Linked DNA regions of Homo sapiens: region 2 is linked to region 1. A link means that fine-mapping ties the variant in region 1 to the expression of a gene that starts in the linked region. Tissue or cell type: whole blood. Region 1 holds a variant in brackets; the other region holds the start of a gene. All regions are shown on one strand. Distances are between the middles of the regions.

What was found. PIP is the estimated chance that this variant, and not a neighbour inherited with it, causes the effect. A credible set is the group of variants that fine-mapping cannot tell apart.
Region 2: FAM170B starts here. The variant in region 1 is the best candidate, but not a certain one, in a credible set for the expression of FAM170B in whole blood (TOPMed, PIP 0.57).

The regions. Positions count from the first base shown.
Region 1 is chr10:49,169,058-49,171,817 of GRCh38, reverse strand. The region is part of intron 1 of TMEM273 (transmembrane protein 273); the gene reads left to right. Among named protein-coding and RNA genes, the nearest start is that of TMEM273, 18 kb to the left of the region's middle. RefSeq lists an enhancer at 517-1,016. The variant G/A (reference allele first, on the strand shown) is at 1,446.
Region 2 is chr10:49,132,704-49,135,463 of GRCh38, reverse strand. It overlaps FAM170B (family with sequence similarity 170 member B), which reads left to right and starts at 1,443. Exons shown (of 2, transcript NM_001164484.2): 1 at 1,443-1,657. The coding sequence starts at 1,546. The region is part of intron 1 of FAM170B-AS1 (FAM170B antisense RNA 1); the gene reads right to left.

The sequences.
Region 1 (2,760 bases):
AAGCTAGGCCGTGCCTTCAGCTCTCTCCAAAATAACTCATCTCAGCTTGTGTAGAGCAGCCCTGCCATCTTCCTCCCCAGGAGCTGGGGTGGCTGCCCTCCCATGTTTCTGGGGGACCATAAGACAGAGGGACATCCACTCTTGCAGAGGGCTTCTTGCTGTTGGGAGAGCCACTTACAGAGCAATCTGTGTGCTGCAGGCCTGAGGTGGGAATGGCAGCTGTGAGGGGGCTGGAGCCCACTATTTTGTCAGGGAGGCACAGAGTACCAGGTCCAAATGGGGCATCAGGGAGAAAGCAGAAACTCTAGAATCTAGAGCCCATCGAGTGCCCTTGTGCAAATTAGGAAAAGCTTCTATGGTCAGAGGCTGATCTGACCACACATGGAAGCTACACAGGTGGAGGCTGTGGAAAGCCCCCGCATCTCAGCAAGTCCTCTGGAGGTAGCCCTCTGCCCTCTGCTCTCTGCTCTAGGCAGCAGCAAGGGCCTGTATTCTGGCTCTCTGACCCTGCCCAGTGTGAACAGTTCAAGGGAGGTGGTCAGCCAGACTTATGCAGTCGGTGGTAGCAGTCAGATGGGGTGAAGCCAGATTTGGCCAGAACTGTGCCTATTATGGCCTCAGCAAATCTACAGGTTAGAAGGGTGCCTGTTTCACACAGCCTTACCTCAGTCCCCTAGGACTCTCCTGTGGGTGCCAAGCTCCCTCCTCCTTCTTGCATGAGATCTCGGAGAATTCCCACAGAGAAAATGCAGTGCAGTTCCTGCTGGTCCTCGTGGGCTTCCTCCTGGGGTCTCCCACAGATCTAAATGCAGCCGAGGCACTCCAGAGACCTCTGGCTGTGATGTCCAAGCAGGCCTGCTAGGGCCAGCCATCCTCCAGCTACTTTGCAGAGCCAGGGGACATCAGCCAGTGCTGGAGGCTTGCAGGGGGTCTATGGCCCAGGGGGTCCTCCCCAGCTCATGACCCTAGCAGGATGCAGGGGTGGGGCCGGCCAGGCTGCTGTGCTGAGCATGGACCCTCACCCAAGGGCTCATGAGTGTGTAGAGTCACAGCTCCAAGCACAGGAGGGCTGCATGGAGGGATTTCCCTCCCTGAGGAGGGGAAAGGCTGCCACTGAGTGGCTGTGGGGCTGGCTCGCAGGAAGGGCTGGGCCCTTGGCTGTTTGAGTGCACAGCTGGGTTATCTGCCCACGTTGGTCTCCCTGCAAGTGACTCAAGGTGGTGGTGGAGTTGGGGTGGCAGTGGGAATTCACTCAGTCCCTAAGTCAGACCACCAAAAATAGAGCCTCTTTGGGGCCAGGGATTAGGGGAAGCCTCACAGCTTGGAGGGGACACAGGATGGGACATAGAGGATGGTGCCTAAGGGACTGGCCTCTTTTTGGGGGTGAGCTGAACCTCAGCCAGGGGTCCCAGCCACAGAGAGGGGCAGAAGGAGCTGAGGGTTCA[G/A]GGCAACACATTTGGGGGGTGAAGTCAATGAGGAAGGATGCAGGACAGCCTGGCGAGAATGGAGACCGTGATGCTGTTGGAGAAACCAAGGCCAGGGCTGGGGCCTTTTGATGTTAGGGCTTTCTCCTCTTCCTTTCTCTTCCCTCCCAATGATGGTCTGAGTGACTCAAGCACAGCCTGAGTGTGTCTCTTGAGTGTCTCTGTGTGTACCTATGTCTTTCTCACCCTTTCTAACCTGAGTCCTTCCTTCCTCTCTGCTCGGATTTCATCTCAGGCTAGCATGAAGTTTCCATGCCAACACTGCAAGTGAGAGCAATGCCCACCAAGGGAGGATGGGAGGGGGGACCAAGCAACATGCTAGTGTGGCAGGGGGAGGGCGTGGGGTGAGCCTGGGGCTCAGGGGTCTGGCCCCACCCACTGAGGCCCTGCCCTCCCCTGTCCTCCTGCCTTCTGCCCAGTAAAGGCAGAGAGAGATCAGAGGTGTCAGCAAAGGGTCCCGTCCCAGGAAAGGGTGAAGACGTAGCACACACAGCTCTGAGTTGGGAGTGTCAGTCTGGAAATGTGCTCCCACCCACAGCCTTCCATTGAATATAAGCCTTTGCCCCATGTCCGGAACGATGTTCAACCTAGCTGGAGCAGCAAGATTGACTTAAAAAAAACAATAAGACAATGGAATGAAGCTGATTGGGGCTTCAGAGAACAGACAAAATCAGAGTCATATTGTGTGCGGTGGTGTCTGTGTGTGTGAGCAAATGTGCTCACATGGGGCTTGTGATCTGTGGGAAAGAGAGAAGATAAGTCATTGAATTTTCAAAAATATCTGTGATTAGAACAAAGCTGAGAACTTTTGCTTTAGAAAAAGCTTGGGGAATCTTTACCAGTCTAAAAAATTAGACTGCCGGAAAAAATTCTGAACTCTAGCAGGACAATTCCTCTCTCCACCAAACACACACAGAGCAAAGCTGTCCCCTGCAGAGCTCCAACCTACCACGCCACTCTGGGCATCACTGAGTGTGGTCAGCAGACAGGGTTGGGTGGAGGATGTCTTTGCTATGATGCTTCCTTCATCATACCATCTGGTCTTTCCCAGTGAAGTCACTTGTTTCCCTTTGTGAGAAACAGGAGTGGTAGCACACTCTCCTGCCTTTGCCTGGAAGTTTGAATGTGAGACTCAGACTTGGATCTTACCATTTGCCCATCCCCAGCCCAAGTCCATGCAGCCCTAGGGCTTGATGGTTTTGGTGGTGTTGTATCTGTTAGTTCACTGGATTCACATTCACGTCTGTAGGCCTTCCTGGACTCTCAGTGCAAACCT
Region 2 (2,760 bases), 36 kb after region 1:
GGAAGTCCCTACCTGCCTAAGCTTACATCTAAGGAGGAGAAGACAGATACAGGTAAACCCATGAGATACACACACAGACATTATATACAGCCTAGGGTGGTAAATGCTATCATGGAAAAATAAAGCAGGGTAAGGTGACAGAGAGTTGTAGGGCCAAAGAAAGCTCTTTTCCTGGGGGTGCCAGGCAGGCTCCTCTGACCAGGTGATGTTTCAGAGGAGACCGGAAGGAGAGAGAGCCACACAGGAACCTAGGGGAAAGCCTGGAACAGGCACAAGGAAGAGCAAGTGCGAGAGCCCAGAGCCCGTGAGGGGAGGATGCCGGGCATGTCCGGGAGCAGTGAAGTGTCTGGAGTCACAGGAACTGAGCAAGGGAGTGAGTAGAGGAGAGGGGAGGGGAGGGGTGGGGTGGGGTTGTGGAGGGTTGAGGAGCTAAACAGGGTCAGCGTGGGGACGTAAGATGGGGGAGAGAAGGAGAGATTTTCCACACTGGGAAGCAGGGTCATTTTATGTTGGCTGCTGACTGTATGTATGTGAGCCTATGTATGGTTAATTAATCTGGCATGAATTTGTGTGCATGTATGTGTGTGTGGTTAAGTAAATATGTGTGTGAATTTGTATGTGTGAGCATGTTATGTGTCTATGTGAACACACGTACATATGTTTATGTTACTGTGTGTGCCATATGTGTTCCAGCGTATATGTGTGTCTGAGTGATCATGTATGCGTTTCTTTGTGTGTGAGTGACATAGTATGGACATGTGTCCCCTTCAAATCTCATGTTGAAATTTGATATCCAATGTGAGAGGTGGGCGTAGAGGGAGGTGTTTGGGTGACGGGGACAAATCCCTCATGAAGGGCTCAGTGCCACCCTCGTGGTAAAGAGTTCTCACTCTTAGTTCTGTGAGAACTGAGTGTTGAAAAGAGCCTGTCACTTCCTCCACTCTTTCTTCCTTCCTCTCTTACCCATGTGATCTAAACACACCTGCTCCCCTTCCCCATTTGCTGAGAATGGAAGCTTCCTAAGGCCCTCACCAGAAGCAGATGCTGGCACTATGCTTTGTGTACAGGCTGCAGAAACATGAGCCCAATACACTTCTTTCTTTTATAAATTACCCAACCTCAGGTATCCCTTTGTAAGCCACACAGATGGACTAAGACAGCGGTTCCATGCATGCTTAAGTGTATACAAGTGTCTCTGTGTTTATGTGTTTGTGTTTTTATGTGTGTCTAAGGAGTTAAGAGTATGTGTGTTTTGTGTTTCTGTGTGTCCATGATAATACACAAGACAGAAAAGGAGTTCCCATGGGGAAATGAGAACATGTTGGGAAGCCTCTCCTGGTATCCAGCCTCAGCCTCTGCCCTCGCCATGGGTCACAGAACAGACCAGTGCCATCGATGAGGTCACACAGTAGAGCTAGGATCTTAGCGACCATGGGGAGCTCAGTGTCCACTCTGGCTGGGGCCAGCTGGAGGCCTTCAGTACAGCCCCAGCCAACTCTCACTGAACAGCTGGAGCACCGACACCCTGGGCACTCATTTCAAATCATGAAATGCTACTTCACAGATCACAGGGGAGAACAGTCACCCACCGATGGGACCACCCTCAGCTTGACCAGCCCTGAGTCCACTGAGGAGAGTGTGGAAGTGTTCTGGCCAGGTAGGTGAAAAGAAAGGCCTGGAAGGTCAGCCAGCTGTGCTCCCTGGGAAGGAAGCCCTGATGGGAAGGGACAGTGCCAGGTTGCCTCCTGATACTGTTACCAAATGGTTGTGTTGACCATAAACATAGATGTGGAGGGAAAGGAAATTGATATTTATGGGACACTTGGTGTGACTGAGGCTGTTATGAGTATATAAGGTGTTTTCAGGGGATATGAGAATGAAAATGTAAAATGTTTATAATTATGTATTTATTTTAATGTGTATTTGAGAAAACAACACGTCCATCCTGTGATTTCAGCAGTGAAATAAAAAATTCCTTTATAACAAAATGATGAAAGTTAATCTAGAACATCAATTTGAAGACCGCGGGGACGTGTCTGTGGGCAGCACCTAAGTGTCACACCAGCTCTGGGGGCCCAATGGCTCCACCACTCATTCAAACTCCATGCCTCTCTTTCCTACTCTGTTGAATGGGAATCCTAACAATATAATTTCTTAGGGTTGTTTTGAATATTAAACTTGGCAAGCACTTCCATGGCAAGAGGGACACAGTAAGTGTTGAAGGAGATAGTGAGATGCCCCCTCGGGAAGGTGAAGACAGGTCACAAATGTTGAAGAGGATGGTGGGTCTGGGTGGCTTGGCCAAGGCACTTTGCATGTGTTGTTTTTTAAATGGGCTTTACTGAGGTGTCTTTTATGCACACAGACTTCAGCAATTTTAAATGCACAATTTAAAGAAGTTTGACACATGTACATTTGTGGAACCACCAACACAGTCATGATAAAGAAGATTTTTCAAAACCCCTAAAAGTCCCCTTGTGCCTTATTATGACCAGTCTCCTCTCACCCCGTCCCCAGCTCTGGGCAACCACTGAGCTGTTCTCTGTTGCTAAAAATTTGCCTTTTCTAGAATGTCATCTGAATAAAATCATATACGACATGGACTCTTTTTTTTTTTTGTTCACATTCTCTTATGACTACATGGCCTTTTTAATTGGCTTCTTTTATTTAGCATAATGCATTCAGGATTCATCCGTATTGTTGCACGTCTCAGTGGTTCATGGATTTAACAGGTTGCATCATATGGATACACCTCAGTCA